Regions from separate parts of the Homo sapiens genome. Here region 2 is linked to region 1. Evidence: fine-mapped QTL for protein levels in blood plasma. A gene starts in region 1. The other region holds a variant in brackets. All regions are shown on one strand. Distances are from middle to middle.

Region 1 (8,000 bases):
AAAAACCAGGTGCAAGAAGCCTCTTTCACTCATTTGCCTTCACTGAGCAAGATTCAAGCTGCAATTAGCACAAACAGTTGGCTGGTTTGCCTGTCACTTATGTCTTATCTTCCTCCTCTTATTAAGGAGGTTAAGAAATGGTTTATTGCCTATGACCGTCTTATGAAATATGTCACACTTTCTCATCAGCTCTTATTTCCTGTTCACATGTGGCTTTCTGGTTGGTAAAGGTTTTATTAAATCAGAGGAATTTGAACGGAAAGATAATCATAGTAGCCCACCACCAATTGCCTAGGGAAAGGGAGAGTGTTGAGTAGATTGAAATTGAGAAGTTGTAGTGAGAAAAAGTAAGGCGAAATGTAGATAAGAAAATAGTTACTTGAAAGTCAGCAGATGGAAAATGTATGAGAGGAGCGATAAAAAACCTAGGCTGTAGAAGGAAGTCCATCTAGGACAGTGGTTTCCAATCTTTGTTGTGGTTCTGTGAGAGTTTACTGGCAGTGCCATAAATAACAAAAATATGTGTAGCAAATTAAGAATCACAGAGGCCCTCTGTGCAAAAATGTAATTTTCTTTATTTCTTTACAATTGAAGCCAACTAGACTTAGGAATTCTCATTTCCACCTGATGGTAGAAAAAGATCTCACTAATTTAGAGTTGTTTTGTCCCCACTGGTTCAAGACTCAGTCTCTCTGGGGGTAGTAACACAATCTCTTCAGAATTCTTTCCTTCCAAACCCTGCATTTGTTTTTTCTGAAGGATCAATGGAGTTCTTTGGGGGTGGTGGGGCTAAAGTGGACCGAGCTGAAGAATGGTTGTCCTGGTGTCCCGGGAGGGGTTCTGGTCCATGAGTTATCCTCTGTTCTTGAAAACTTCAGCTAGGACCATGCTTGTCCCATCAGACTAGGTCCAAGGGCTCTTTGGTCTTCTTAGCTTCTGCACTGCCCCCTTTGAGTGTCTGGGGACTCTCAGCTGCTTTACTTGAACACTCTGGGATGCACTGGACTTTTCTCAAGGCAGCCTGTCCTCAGGCCCAGGCATATCTGCTGCCAGGCCTGCTGTTTGGCTCAGGCCATGTTGGACACGGGGGCTTTGCTATGACCCTGGTGGTGTCCAGAACTAGGCTGGGAAGCCAAATGGCATCCCTCTCTTCCAGTCTTCTCCATCAACCTCTTCAGTCAGGAGGAGGCCAGGTGATGCAGTTTGGATATTTGTCCCTGCCCAAATCTCATGTTAAAATGTAATCCCCAATGTTGGAGGTGGGGGCTGGTGGGAGTTGTTTGGATCATGGGGGTAGATCCCTCATGAATGGCTTGGGCCATCCCCTTGGTGATAAGCGAGCTTTTGCTCTGAGTTCACATGAGATCTGGTCATTTAAAAGTGAGTGGCACCTCCCGCACCTCTCTCTCGCTTCCTCCTGCTCTGGCCACGTGACGTACCTGCACCTCCTTCACCTTCTGTCATGATTGTTAGTTTCCTGAGGCCTCCTCAGAAGCCCAACAGATGGCAGTGCCATGCTTCCTGTATAGCCTACAGAACCATGAGAGAATTAAATCTCTTTTCTTATAAATTTCCCAGTTTCAGGTATTTTTTTATAGCAATGTAGGAATGGCCTAACACACCAGGATTTCTCTTATTAGGTGGTGCTGAAGAGTGGAAGCTCTGAGTCACTCCTCAGAAACCTTTCAGGGTCTAGTAAAGAGCAGCTCCCTCCCTCTGCTTCTCCCCTTCCCACCTGCTGGTCAACTCTGTTCCTTGGAGTGGGAACAAAAACAAATAGCTTTACATTACCATACATTCTTCTGTACTCCGTGGTTTATGATGTAAACCTTATGGTCTAAGTTGTCCAATACTTTGGCTTTGGAGGTTCAAGGAAAAAAAACATAAAATACTTCTTCTTTCAAGCCTAGCCTTAATGTTTATAATGGACAGTCTTTCAAAATGTCCTGCCACATGGGCCATAGGAGATGCTTTATTTTTCAGGCATTGGATTATGTTGTGTTGGTCAATATGATTTTGTTTCATGTGCATTATCAGAAACTCTTCCCAAAGAGGGTCCTGGGATCTGATCAGCTAGACAAGTGGAGGAGAAACTGAAAACCCTCAGGGGACAGGGTCTCAGTTAAGTCTCCTGAATGATAAGCATTTCAGAGGTGGGAGGGAGACACCCCGGAAGGTGTCCAGAGGCTAACAATGCTATTTCTGTTTCTTGTAAGTTTTTGTCCAAGATGTGGGCCATTGGATTGCATCACTAGCATACAATGTCAGTGTAAGCAGTAGGCTTTACACTAAAGCATGTTGATGTGCTCAGAGCATTTTTGTGGTGCTGAGACCAGAGCAGATAGGGATACAGGGATGACAGTCTCCACCTTACGGAAGCCTCCTACCCAGGGGATGGAGTGAGACAGGCAGGCACACCAGTTATCCAAGGAAAGGAAATAAAGGGAAGGAGAAAGTCAGTGAAAGTGGTCAGGATGGCTGAGTGAGGGAGAAGGTGACTTGAAGGTCCCAGATAGAACAGTGGTAATAAGGTGAGAAAGAGGAGGTCTTCCAATTCCATTTCTGTGTTGGGCGGGTGTTTGAGAGTCCCACCTGGGTCTAGAGGCCTGCATGTCTAGCAGGACACTGGGTAGGAGTGGCTGAACGGGGACAACACTTAAAAAAGACAAAAATTACGGATTTTATTTCTACATGGTTGCACAAATCAATTTCACTTTCTACTTGTAAACTGCTTAAAAACCTTCATTATGAAAATGGAAGGACGAATTTATGTTCACCATCATAGTGCTTCTGGGCTGGTTCCACAGCATGGAGCCAGGCCCACCTGCTGTAGCTTTCAGAACTGCCATTTGGACACGTGGTTGAAGCAGCCTTCAGTTGGAGGATTCACAGTAATGGCATCACTGTGGGAGCTTAGAGGAACAACTGCTTGCAACCCCAGCTGCACTGGAATTACCTGGGAGCTTTAAAAACACTGCCTTTTGGGCCTCAGCCCCAGAGACTCTGACGTGACTGATCTGAACACAGGAGTGTCATGTCCTCCGGTGATTCTGAGTGGAGTCAAGGCTGTGAGACCTTCTGCTGTATAAAGGAATATTGAGAGCTGGGATTGTTAAGGAATTCTCTTAATGCTACGTCACTGGCCTCTGATGTAAGCCTGCTTTCTCGAGGAAAAGGAACCATAAAAGCTTCTGGAAACAGATTGTTTAAGAATGAGAAATTGTCATCATGCCAGGTTGCAAGACAGCTTTTAGGGCAGATGAGCTTCTGCTGCTCATTCCTTCATCTTTTCCTCCAGCCTGGATTTGTCCGGGGGCAGCTGAGGCTCAGGTTACCTCAATTCTTGAGTTTCTGAAGAGGCATATCCAGGGGTGGGTTACGAGAACAAGAGCCTGCCCAGTCTGAAAGGGATGCAGGAAGGGGCGGTGTGTACTAGAAGGAAGGAAGCTATCATCATTTATTAAAACTCTTCTTGGAGGATGGCCCATGAAGACCTCCAAACAAGCTGGAGGGGCCAGTCACTTGCTGAAGACTAGCGAAGTGGAGGGGGAAAGCCCGAGGGAGCTGCAGACTCGACCACTGCGCCCTCCCCTCCTCTCCCTGCAAGGAGCCCAAGGTGTGATCCTGCCAGGCGTTCGTTCGCTGCATGACCTTGGCCATCCTTCCATTCCCCTGGGTGTGAATTCTCATTGGCAAAGTGAGCTGGTGGGCATAAGTGGGTTTTAAGTTTAAAAATTTAAAAACCCTGTCTGCCCCCAAGTGTGGTATCAAGATTTTATAGTATGACACTTAAATTGCTTTTTTCATCCGGGCGCGTAACAGCAACAATGAAACCAGCAGATAACGCGTGAGTAGTATCAGCTCTGGGCCTGGCACTATTTTATATGTATTAGCTCATTTTTTTTAAAAAACTGTTTTCAACCACTCCATGAGATGAGTGCTCTTATGATCCCTTTTTCACAGAAGAGGAAACGGAGGTACAAAGAAATTAGTGCACAAAGCCAGTCGGAGAGAGCCCCTGGCCAGGCACCAAGCTCCAGAGGTCGCTCTGGCGAGCGTTTGCTTCGGGATCTGATGCCCTGGAGTCGCCAACTCAATTCGCGGGTCGCAGCCAGGCTCCATGGGGGTAGTAGAGCCAGGTCGTAGTGGCTAGGTGAGTTGTCTCAACTAACTCTAGTGGAGCCGCCGCAGCCCTGGAGGAGCCGGGCCGCGACTCGAGAGCGCCCGGCAGCTCTCCAATGCTTTGGAACCGGCGGGACCCCTGCGGGCTACCCGGGGCAGGGCGGTGTCCGCAGGGGTCTGTCCAGCCGCGCCTGCTCCTCCGGGTGGAGAGTTGGGACACCCGGCCAGCTCGCTCGCAGCCCGCGGACTGGCCCAGCCGAGCCGTCTCCGCCCGTTCCCCGCCCCCGCAGCGGCGGGGCTAGAGCCAGAGCCGCGCCCGGCAGTTCCCGGCCGCGAGGGCGGGCGCAGCTTGTGGCCGGCGGCCGGAGCCGACTCGGAGCGCGCGGCGCCGGCCGGGAGGAGCCGGAGAGCGGCCGGGCCGGGCGGTGGGGGCGCCGGCCTGCCCCGCGCGCCCCAGGGAGCGGCAGGAATGTGACAATCGCGCGCCCGCGCACCGAAGCACTCCTCGCTCGGCTCCTAGGGCTCTCGCCCCTCTGAGCTGAGCCGGGTTCCGCCCGGGGCTGGGATCCCATCACCCTCCACGGCCGTCCGTCCAGGTACGGGGAAGCTGGAGCATCCGGGGACTAGGTAGGGGTGAGACGGACCACAGCCTTGACACCTTCGAGTCCCCCGCTCTGCAGGACGCCGTGAGCGTCCTCCCTAAGTTGCACTTGGTTGTCAGAGTGTGTTGTGTAAGAAGGGGATGGCGGTGAGGTCTGCGTGTGTGTGTTTCTTGTGTGGAGCAAGAGTTAACGTTGTTCAGGTCGTTTGAAGGAACTTGCCAGTTGTTCTGGAGGGGGGTTCTAGGTAGGTGTGTGACTTCCCGTGTGAATGGCTTTCAGGTTTTCTATCCGGCTACGTTCTACAGGTTCAGGAGCGTCCCTCTTAGAGGTTAGGCTCAGGACCGTCAGTCTCCTTAACAAGGTAAGGGCTGAGGCCTTAACCACACTGGGGAGGGTAACTTGTTGCCCCTCCAGATAAAGGATGGTGCTAGGGAATGTAGCTACAAGCAAGTAGGCGCTGAGAAGACACTCATTATTTACAACAGTCATGCCCAGCACTTTACAGTTTATAAGCCCTTGACAGCAACTGGTCTTTTACCCTCCCTACAGTCTTGTGAGGAGGGTGCTGTCATCACCCCTGTTTTACAGCGGGGGAAGCAGAAGTTTAGGTGACCAACTTGTTGGAGGATGATGTCCTGAAGGAGGGTAAGACCTCTGCATGCAGCCCCCCTCTGTCTTCCCTCCCACTCGTCCTGCCTGCCAGGGCTTTCTCCTCTGCACTGCCGGGAGGAAGGAAGGCCGCTGGGAAGGCACGCAGATGCTGGCTCCTGCTGGGCTGTCTCTCCACTGCCTTATCTTTGGGGCAGGGTAGCTTCTCAGATGGCCACATTCCTGTGATTTAGCTTTACATTCTAGGAACTGAGGCAAGGGACACCATGAACTTGGGCTCTTGAGGTCATGGAGCAAGGGTCCATTCGTCACGGGAATGTGATGGATGTCTCAGTCGCTGCGGTTTGGTGCCAGGCTTCTGGACATTGAATGTATGAAACAGAACTCCATGACTATTGATGAGCTGAGGAAAGCCAGAGGTGGCATGGGGACGTTCACTGTCCTTTTTGCCATCCAGTTTACCAAGCGGCTATTGGCATTGTTTTCTTTCTCAATCCCTTCTAATTTATTGTGTGATATCTCATTTGATATTTCATTTAATATTCTGTATTCATATCCGATGTTAACGTTTATGCTAGACAGAAAGGTAGAGCCTTTGAGAATGGGGTTTGCTGGGGCAGGGGTGTGGAACTCTGATTTATTTTCAGTCTCTGGCTAGCTGCCAAGCTGCTGTGTGTGAAGCGTCTCCTGCACCCGTCCACTCTCATGTGGCCTCCATGCTGTTCAGGAAAGGATATTTGATCTGAATTCTCACATGACCTTGGCAGGCCCAGAGCAGCACCCCCATTTCTAATAGGCCCTGCTTGTATGTCATAATGTGACATCAAGTTTTTTTTTTATGGTTCTGAAACCTGTGACATCTTTTGAGTCAACCTCTCACCATTGTTGAAACACTGCTTAATAGTAGATTCACTAATTTATTAAAGATTTATTGACTATCTACTATGTGCCAGGCACTGTGGTGAGTGGTGGGGAGACAGCGGTGAATACGACAAGTGAAAACCTCTGTCCCCTTATGGACATGAGTCTTCTTGGTAAGACATAGGATGTCAGCAGTCTCTCTTCAAAAGGGGGGTCTTTGAAATCCGCCCCTTTGTACAAGGGTGTGGATGCACTGGCTACCTAGAGGACACCACTCAGCAGCCCCAATGGAGAGGACGAGGAGATGATGGGCACAGATGTAGCTCTGTGGTTCCCTAGAGAATCGCAGGGCTGCTATTCTCCAAGTTTGTGGTGTCCCTTGCCTCAGTTCCTAGGATGTGGAGCTCTAGGAGGTGGAGCTACACTCTGTGGCTTGGCCATGCACAGGGACCAGGGCAGATGGAAACCCTGTGGCTGGGATGCATCAGTGCGAGCTGAGTGTCCACCTGCAAGCTGGGACATTATGGAGAAGACATCTCAGTAATAAGAGAGGCAAAGCTGGACAATTGCGGTGAAACTACCATAGCATAGTGGGTGGAGAAGTACAGAGATCCTTATATTCTTATGCTACATAATGGATATACTAGGTTCTTGCCATTTTAAAAGAAGTTGTCAGGGGCACCTGTGGCTCACCTGCCATGGCACAGCTCCAGGATGCTACCCATCTGTTGCCGTGAATGGGTGCTTGGTTTGCATTTTCTTCTTCTTGAGGTTGTGAGGTGGGCTGGTGGCACAAGACAAGGATCTGCACTGTCAGCAGCCTTTTTCTCCTCTGGTTGTCTGCTGTGGGTCCAGGAAATGCTGCTGGAGCCTCCCGGCCATGCCTAGTGCAGGGAGCATGTGGGAAGCCCTGGCCCCGAGTTATCTCACCAGGTACTGAAAGGGGCTGGAGCTCTTTAAGGTCCCAGTCGCCTGCATGTTGGATTCTGTGCTGTCTCCTCTTCATGCACATCCAGGAGCTCACACATGGCGGCACGATGGAGACACCTATCACTTCCCAAGAGGACTCATGCCCACGAGCGGACAGGGGGTCTCATAAATTAAAAGTAGGGTAAAAGGAAAACAAGAGCGGAGATGAAGTGGAGTCTGAAATGAGGCTTGACATGTGCAGTGTAAACCCTGATGACCTAGATGCTGCTAAAGTTACTCAAGTGGGGCCGTGAATGTGGAGGGAAGCCTGAGTCTTAGCTCTGCCTGCACCTTAGCACTGCCTGAAGCACTCAGGGAAATGCCAGGACTGGATGCAGAGCAAACAAACTAGCATCTCTGGAGGCGTGCTGGGCACGGGTATTTTCAAAGCCCCCCAGGTAGCCAAGGTTGACAACATAAATACATAAATACTCTTTCCTGTAGGCAGTGGGAAAGAGGAAACCCTGCAGGGCACAGCCAGCAGTGTCTTCAAGATGAAAGCAAAGTGCTCAGGAAAAAAAGCATTCTTGGCACAGAGAGAAGTGGGAAGTTTCTTTTAAAGATCCCTGAAAAAGAGGTGAGAATAGTGAGTTTTCGGTGGTCTCTTGAAATGACCCTCCCTGTAAGCACAGTTCGGTAATCATGGTTCAGCGAGCTGTGAACAGGAAGAGTCTAGCCATGCTGGTCTCTGCACATTTGGCGTCCCAAATGTGAGAACTCATAGATCCCTGAAAATACAGCCAATGACTAATGACTAAGAGTTAAATGAAAAGTTAGATGGTGTCACTTTCCATCAGTGGGTCTCACCTCATTAAAACCCAACACCCCCCTTAATGC
Region 2 (8,520 bases), 110 kb before region 1:
GTAGGCTTAATTACATTATAATTTCTGCACAACAAAATAACAAAAGCAAGGTTTAGACAAAATTGTGTCAGACAAGTTCAAGGAATGAGTAACTATCATGTGTAGAGTTATTCAAAGTCATAGAAAAGGCATGTGTCTTAGTCTTTTTGGGCTGCTACAACAAAATACCATAACTAGGGTGGCTTGTAAACAACAGAAATTTATTTCTCACAGTTTTGGAGGTTGAGAAGTCCAAGATCAAGGTGCGAGCAGATTTGGTGTCTGGTGAGGGCCCACTTCCTGGCTAATAGACGGCAGCCCTCCTGACTTAATCACCTCCCAAGGGCCACAACTCCTAATACCATTGTATTGGAGGTTAGGGTTTCAACATATGAATTTTGGGAGGACACAAACATTCAGTTTATAGTAGCATCATCACCCTACAGATGAAAAAATGTGAGTAGGGGATTGCAGAAGAGACACACATAAAGGAACTCATGGAAAAATGACACTTTCAGTAAGAACCAGGGGATGTAAATTAGAGCAAATTTGAGATACCAGTGCACTCACACACTATCAAGTGTTTAAAAGTTTTTATGAAACACTCTCACACTTTAATTCAATTTATAATTTGGTGCTGGGAAGAAGAAAGGCAACATGAGCCAAGTCAGTTGGGTGCTGGACCAGCTTGCATCTTCTTGCAAGAGCCCAGGATGTGCCTCTCTTCTTGGCTCTGTTCAGTGATGTCATGTTGGTAGCTTAAAATCTGTGGCCATTGTGGAGTCTTTACACCACAGAAATTGGCAGTTGCCACAAATCAGCACTCTCTTCCCCAGTACATAACAACAAGGTTTGAGAGATGCCCAGTGATACTACTCCTGGGAATTTAGCTTAGGAAATAATTTAATAAAATAAAATCATTAGAGATATAAAATAATTTAATAAAACTTATTACCCCAATGATGAAAAATTATGCAGCAATTATCAATTATAATGATCAATACTATAATGACCAAATTATCAAAATTGTAAGACTTAAATGTTTACAGTGTTAAGGAAATATTATACATTGTTTTGTACAATTTTTATGGTTACAATATTGACATTTGTTTGCATCTAGACAAGGAGAAAACTTAAAAACTTGGACTTTGAAGGCAGACTTTGTGAGTTCAAGTTCAAGCACTGCCACATGGTGCCTCTGTGATCTTGGGCAAATCCTTTAATCTCAAAGTACATCAATTTTCTCATCTGAAAAATGGGGATAATCACTTAGTCCAAATTAACTTAGCTATTTAGCTATATTTTATATTTCCATTTTTCCTATTTTTCTATTTCAACTATAGTAACTGTTTAATAATCAAAAACATAGGAGGAATAGACAGAAATAAAAATTGTTGTACTTGGACTACGTGTTGACAAACCACAGCCTGTGGGCCAAATGCAGCCTGCCCTCTGTTTCTGTGGATTAAGAGTATTAGGAAACAGCCTTGCCTGTTTGTTTGCAGACTGTCTTTGGCCACTTTTGCTCTTTGAAGATAGAGTTGAGTAGTTGAGATGGCAAAACCTAGAATATTTACTATTTGGTCGTTTACAGGAAAAGTTTGCCAATGCCTGGTTTAGGTGAAGGCGGTTTTGAGCAGTTAACTTTTGACCCTCGCTTTTCTATTTTCCTGTTATCATCTCCTCTTTCCTTCTTCTGTTTTCTAAGCATTCAGGGAGGGAGAAGTACGGAGGGGCCGGCAGAGGCCTTTGAACACCTTATTAGATTTTAACCGGAAAGGAGAGGAGAGTGAGGTTTGAGAAGGAGGATTCGGTGAGGACGTTGCACAGGGTTCTTTGACTGCTTCTGCCTTTTCTTTATCTTCAGGCTTGGGGCCACGCGCTTGCATCTCTCTTCCTTCCTCGAACTTCTCCAGTGCTCTCTGGAGTCCCCCGCTTTAGATTCTGGCTGTTTCAGCAATGACCCAGAAAAGGAGCTGACTGCAGCCGGAGGAGAACCACCATCGGCTTTCAGACTCTGCCTTGACCTCACAGGTTACGCATTTCCTCCCCTCCACTATTTCAGAAGTGTGGGGTCACACAGGTAGAAAAGATGCGAGACAATCGGGGAATTTTGAGTGCTGGATTTATGCTAATATTAAGGAATAAGTGTGATATTTGCATTGCTGCATTCAAAAAAGGTTATTATCTAAGAGGCAAACTAAATATTTATTTATTTATTTATTTATTTATTTTTTTGAGATGGAGTCTTGCTCTGTCGTCCAGGCTGGAGTGCAGTGGCGCGATCTCAGCTCGCCGCAAGCTCCGCCTCCCGGGTTCACGCCATTCTCCTGCCTCAGCCTCCCGAGTAGCTGGGACTACAGGCGCCCGCCACCGTGCCTGGCTAATTTTTTTTGTATTTTTAGTAGAGACGGGGTTTCACCGTGGTCTCGATCTCCTGACCTCGTGATCCACCAGCCTCGGCCTCCCAAAGTGCTGGGATTACAGGCGTGAGCCACCGAGCCTGGCTGAGGCAGACTAAATTTTTTATGGGTGATGTGTGAGATTTGCTTCGAAGTTATCCAGTGGTGGATGGGAGAATACATGAAATAAGATTGGCCAAATGTTGATAACTGTTGGCCTTGGTGATGACTGCACCCTGCTTCCTTATATCATTCTTTCTACTTTTGTATATGTTTGAAAACTTCCATAATAAAGAGTAAAATACAATCCAGCAAAAACTCAATACCCGCTAGACAAGAGAATGTGTAGCTCTTACAAGTAATAAAATGCACTACAGTAAAAAACAACATGGAACAATATGGATGAATCTTAGATATATATTATTGAATGAGTCCCAGAAACATTTCTTAGAATGATGTCCTTTTACATAAAGTGAAAACAACTAAAGTTAATATGCTCTCTCTCGAATATGTGAAAGCATCTTCATATATATTCACACACACGGTTAAAATGTAGTTTTTGTCATATATATGCTCTTAAATATAGATGTGTGTGTGTGTGTGTGTGTTTGTTTGGATAGTGATTACATCAGGGTTGGGATGGATTAGGAAAACATAAACTTCATTAAGTTCTAGATCTCATGTTAGGTAGTAGACTGTGATTGTTTACTTTATTATTAAACAAACAGATTAAAAAAAAACACAAGCTATTCAGGGACCAATATAGAATCTGTGTCTTGAACCAAGGATTATGACTAACCTAATTCTGTGTCCCTAAGTCCAATTTGAACACACAAACAGATGGACAAGTGAAACAATGTGGTTTCTTTTCTTAAAGTGGCCTATCTCCTCTATTTTTTGTTGATTCTGTTGTTTTAACTTTCTGAAGGTGAATTTTTTCACCCCCAACCCTACAAAGGCTGGGGAGAGGGGGTGATAAATAGTTTTTGGAAACCTCACACTTCCATGCACTGCCCACAGGAAAAACCCACGTCTTATGTAATAAATGCCACTTCTGCAAGAACTAAGGATGAGAGCAGACATCAACAACAGAAGCCAAGAATAATTTATGAGCTAAAAAACAAATGTGATCTCTCAAGTATTTTGAATGCTATGGGAATATATAGGGACTCTTTCACAGAAAGGGTGGGATGTTTGTTTCTTGTAAGTTCCTCAAGGCAGGAGCCTTCTCGTTCCTTGATGCACCCCAGCACCGGGCACGGTGTCTTGCTGCGGCACAGGCATTTAAGAAGTGTCTGCAGAATGGATACAGCGTGTGTCACTTGGACTTTTCCAGCCTGTGTGAGCAAATGGGTCTTATCAGTGGGACTCAGCTAAGTTTCTCTGCTCCTGTCTCTACACTCAACTCTCATTGGTTTTTTCCATGATGTCCTGCCAATAGTTCACTTGGACACACAAAGGTGCTTTGTGTTTTGTGGTTGCTTTCCTGTTCTTGCGGTCCTCACCCATTGGCATCTCTGCCCATGCCACCCATCAGGGCTACTCGTTACTGCTACTGGGCTCCAAGAAGGCATTGCCACCAGTGGAGAAGCCATCCAGACGCCACCTGGGCTGTAGCCTCTGCCAGCTTCCGTGCTGGAGCCAGCTTGTGCACTCCTGAAAGCTCCTCCTTTCTTGGCTCATGGGTTCAGCCAGTCCTCAAAGCAGGGGTGGTGGGCTAGAAAGCTCCCTCCCACAGGGCTCAGGCACCAGCACATTCTCCTCCTCCTTGGCATGCCTGCAAAACCCACTTCCTCATTCTTCAGAAAAGCAAAGCAAAACAAAACCTCCTACAAAGGAACTCCCAGAACCCACTGCCCAGTGGTTTTTCAGAAACTGCCCAGACAGCTACCAGACCCCTGGTGGAGGCCGAGCTTCAGGGGCCAGGAACTACTACTCAGCCAGCTTCCAGGACAAGGGGAGAGAAAGCTTTAGATAAAAAAGAGTGGGAGAAATAAAGCAAGAATGAAGGAGGAGAAACCAACATCTAAATGTCTACATTGTGCAAGATTTTACATGTTTTGCTCAATTGAATCCT[CAAA/C]AAAAAAAAAAAAAAAATCCACCAGGCAAAGATTATAATTCACATTTTAGAGGTAAGGAAACTGAAGCTCACCTAATTTAAAAATTACCTCCTAGAGAGTGTGGTTTAGATGTGCAGCAGCAATGGGCTTCTTAATACCGAATCCCAGGATTCGACAGCTGAGAAACAGCTGGCCCATGCAGGGGCTGGTTTGAGTCAAGGTTACAGTCAGGAGCAGAGCAAATATTTGCTTTTCTAGGGGAAGACTAGCTACCACAAAGAGTTCATCTCCCGAAACCGGTAGAAGGTACATCTGGAATCTGGGGGACCAGGGGGACTGTAATAAGGATTCCTTCACAGGGAAGGAAGAATCAGAAGTAGGAACCGAGTGTCCTCTCCTACAGTATTTCCCAGCTTTTTGTTCTCTTAGCCTGTGGCCTGTGACCAATCAAGGCGTCACTGTCCTACTGGATGGAGGTGAGGCGTCCAGCGTGCAGTCCTGCCGCTGGGTCTGAGGCTACTCTCTCAGGAAATAAGAGTGTGAGTCCCTGGATCCTTCTGAGCCCACTGCAGGGACAATGTGGATTTAGCCCCCAGAAAGCACAGAAACAGCTAAGAACAGTCTGTGAATTAAATTAGTCTCAAAGCCATACTATACCTCAGGCTGACTGTTCACCTTGTTATATTTCCCACCCCAAATTGCTGTTTTCAAATATAGGCTTTATTATTCAGGTTTGGTGAGGCCAACAGATCAGGAGACAATAGCCATTGAAAATACAGTGGTATCCCCCAGATCCCAGCAGGAGGGGCACACCACACCATGGCGGTTGGGAGGGTGCCCAGAGAAGCACTAGGGCCGATCAGGAGGCTGAGGGAGTGAGGGGAAGGTGTGGGCGAGAGCTCTTCCGATGGTTTCTGTGGGAAGGAGTGGGTGAGGCAGGGTAGGCAGGCTTAGGATTGGCTGGTTTGAATGGTTTCCTTGGGCTCTTGGTGCATGGGCTGTCCCTCACTGGGTGTGGATAGTGACCCTGAGGGTGAGAGTTCCATAAAAGAGGTGGTTGGGGTGTGGCTCTGGATTGGTCGATTTGCATTTGAAAAGCATGTTGCAGAAGTAGGCAAGTTGTTTACTATCTCTAGGAATTGGCTAAACCAGGGAAAGGCCCAGGTATCAAAGCAACAAGGTCCCACGTACCAAAGCATCAGAAACACATGGTTAATACAACTGGGACAGCCAAGTGCAAAGGGGTTGCCGGAAAAACTCCAATAGGCCTGCGCACTGGGGTGGAGACTTGGGAAGTTCAAGCCTTTTGCGGCGGGGAGGAGCCTGGCTCGTCCTCTTCCTGGGTGGAACCAGGGATTCAATCTGCGAGGCGGGAAGCACACTAGCAGTGCTCTGCCTTTGCGGAGGGTCCCTGTTTCTCTTTTTTCCCCCCTTTTTGCCCAATAAATTCCACTTGTCTCACCCTTCAAAGTATCTGCAAGCCTAATTTCTCATGGCCATGTGACAAGAACCTGGCTGTTAGCTGAACTAAGGACAAAGGTCCTACAACACAATTACATCCTGCCTTGTCTGCTACAGCTCATCAGAAGCTCTGCACAGAAATTAAGTGGCCAAAAGTAAACAGCCAACAAAATAAATATGCTCCCAATTTTATTTTATTTTATTCTCTCAAGAATACCAAATATCCTTTATGAAGCATGGTAAAACAACTGCCATAAAACCTTAGAAGCGTTAGCAGCAAAAGCTTAGTGCCGCATAGAAATGTAGTCTTACATTTGTAGCCTGGGCAATATCTAAAAAGGATGTACACTAAGCCTCAAAAATTTTAAAATTAAAGCCTGAGTTTCTCCACAGCTCCTTCTTGCTCCATCCCAGCAAAGAGGCTGCTCCATCCAGGAGAGGGGACTGCAGTCAAGGCTGTCTTCCGTCTTCTGCAAGGAAGGGTGTGGCTCCTTAGGGCATTGCATTGGCCTCGCATGTCCCCTTTTAATGTGTCCCAGGCATTTATACAAGATCAGCACAGCCCTGACCCCACCTGCAATGAATTTTAAGACAAGCCATTCTCTGGTCCCTGGAGCAGTTTTTCTGGACAAATGTTGCTCCCAGGAATCCATACCCAGCAGTAACAGTGACCACAGCAGCAGTTCGGAGATATCAGGGGAAAGAATGGGGGATGCAGGTGGACCTCAGTCCAGTATCATCAGCATCCCTCTGCTGATTAGAGCCACAGGGTGGCCCAGTATCCTCGTTCCGCAAGCCCTCCAGGACATTCTTACTCCTGCTGTCAGTGGGAGCACCTCGATTTCTATGGTTAGGTCTAGAACCCATGACTTGGGAATGTTAGCTCTCTTTGGCCAATTATTCCAGCAGGAATTAGTGACAGTACCACCTTTGTCACATCTAGGGGAAATTTCACCGTGCATCTTATCTCAGCATTTGGGACCCTGGGCTTTCTTGAATAATCTTCAGGGGTAGCTCCCCAGTCTCCCAGGCTCCAGTCCTTTTTTGGAGACTTTCTTCCCCATCTAGCATATTCGGAGCTTCTCACTGTGTTTTTCCCGTAAGCCCATGATGATTTGGCTTCTGTCTTAGTGACAGAGCTTCCCCACTCTGTTGTCCTCAAGGCGACAGGGACCATGACCTCCTGGTATGGAACTTTCTAGGCCTCTGCACCTTTTCTGAGAAGAGGGCTCTTCCCCAGCCGCACTCCAGGTGCAAAATGACCCTCAGCAGATCACTCAAAGTGCTTCCACCCCTGGGTGAGAATGACCTTCTTGCCATGTACTCCTCAGTATGCAATTCTCTTCCTCGGCTTTTCAATGTTCAAGATGCTGTATGGTGTTTCTGTTGCATAGATATTTTTTGGAAGTGGAGAGGTATGCCTCGAGTGACTGTGTACCAGTTAAGCGTGGGTCCTCAGCGGCAGACTGGGATCATCTAGAGAGGTGAAACAACAATGCCACTGGTGTCTGGACCCATGCCCAGGGCCTCTGCTGTAAGTGATTGGGGTCCTGGGGGATTCTAATGAGTGGCATGGGCTGGAACCCCTGGTTTGACTTCTTTTCTTTCTAACACCTGTGGTCTGGTACTCCCGGCCCTTTGCTTTTTGTACCAGAAATTCATTCATTCACTTACTGCTTTATCCTAGCATACTCCTCTAGATTTTTGTCTCATGTGGGTCTTCCTTGTGGGAGCTTTAAAATCAGTAAATTTAGACTTGCCAAAACACCCTCTGTTTCTGATTTTAAAGACAAGCAAGGCAAAGTCCCTGTCCAACACCTCCACGTCCATCTAGGAAGTTCAGTACTTATTCCTGGCGTGTCCGTGTCCCAGTGTTTTCCCCCAGTGGTCTGTTTAACTATCCATGTGTTCCCCTGGATCCCTCAGAGGAATCCAGCCTGATCGATGCTGTTTGGAAAGCCGAGGTCTACAGGTTTCCCAATGTCAAAGACATGTCAAATGAATGAATGGATGAAATACGTTGGTGCTTGGTATCCGTCGGCGGTGGGATGTTCTCACAGCTAACAAGGAAGGTCTTCCCTGTAATCTAAGGAGAAGATTTGACTAGTAGCCCAGGAATCATTCCCTCCTGCTCAGTTACCAGTCTTCTTCCTCTTTAAGATTGCCTGCTGCCAGGCTGTCAATGGCACTCCAGCCTTGAGCTCCTTTATCTCACTGGGAAAAGAACCCTCAAGTTCTCCCCTTTAGTTTCATCCTTAATGTGTTCCCAATGAAATAGGGGACACTTGGGAGTTTGGTGTGAGCAGAGGGTAACTTTTCCAAGTCATCATGGGCACGGTTCTGTGTTTTCTGCTCTCTGGATTCAGTTTCCTGTTTAAAAGCCTGAAAGAATATCGCTGTTCGGCACGGAGTACTTGCTGAGCTCTGACTAAATACAAGTCTGTGATTAAATTATTTCAGACTCTAATAAAAATATTTTTAGAAGAAAGTCCTTTGGGAATTATGTAGAGTGCTGAGTGCATTTTTCTCGGCAAACACTTGGACCTGCCTTGTCTTTCTGAGTCAGCTTTTCCTCAGCTTTGTCCATCCTGGGGAAACTCAGGAGACGTATCTTCAAA

Direction of the effects. Positions count from the first base shown, and alleles are read on the strand shown. Strength reflects both the effect of a copy and how common the allele is.
For the plasma level of the protein whose gene starts at base 4,444 in region 1, allele C in region 2 goes with a higher level than allele CAAA (weak association).

The links. PIP is the posterior inclusion probability: the model's chance that the variant is causal. The UK Biobank Pharma Proteomics Project read protein levels with antibody pairs (Olink). The fine-mapping took linkage between variants from a reference panel, not from the people measured, so its PIPs are less certain.
Region 2: its variant is fine-mapped to the plasma level of the IL1R1 protein (UK Biobank, PIP above 0.99).

The regions. Positions count from the first base shown.
Region 1 is chr2:102,138,303-102,146,302 of GRCh38, forward strand. IL1R1 (interleukin 1 receptor type 1) reads left to right here and starts at 4,444. Exons shown (of 12, transcript NM_000877.4): 1 at 4,444-4,718. RefSeq lists enhancers at 5,307-5,601, 5,367-5,661.
Region 2 is chr2:102,029,457-102,037,976 of GRCh38, forward strand. No RefSeq gene overlaps it. Among named protein-coding and RNA genes, the nearest start is that of IL1R2, 42 kb to the left of the region's middle. The variant CAAA/C (reference allele first, on the strand shown) is at 4,459.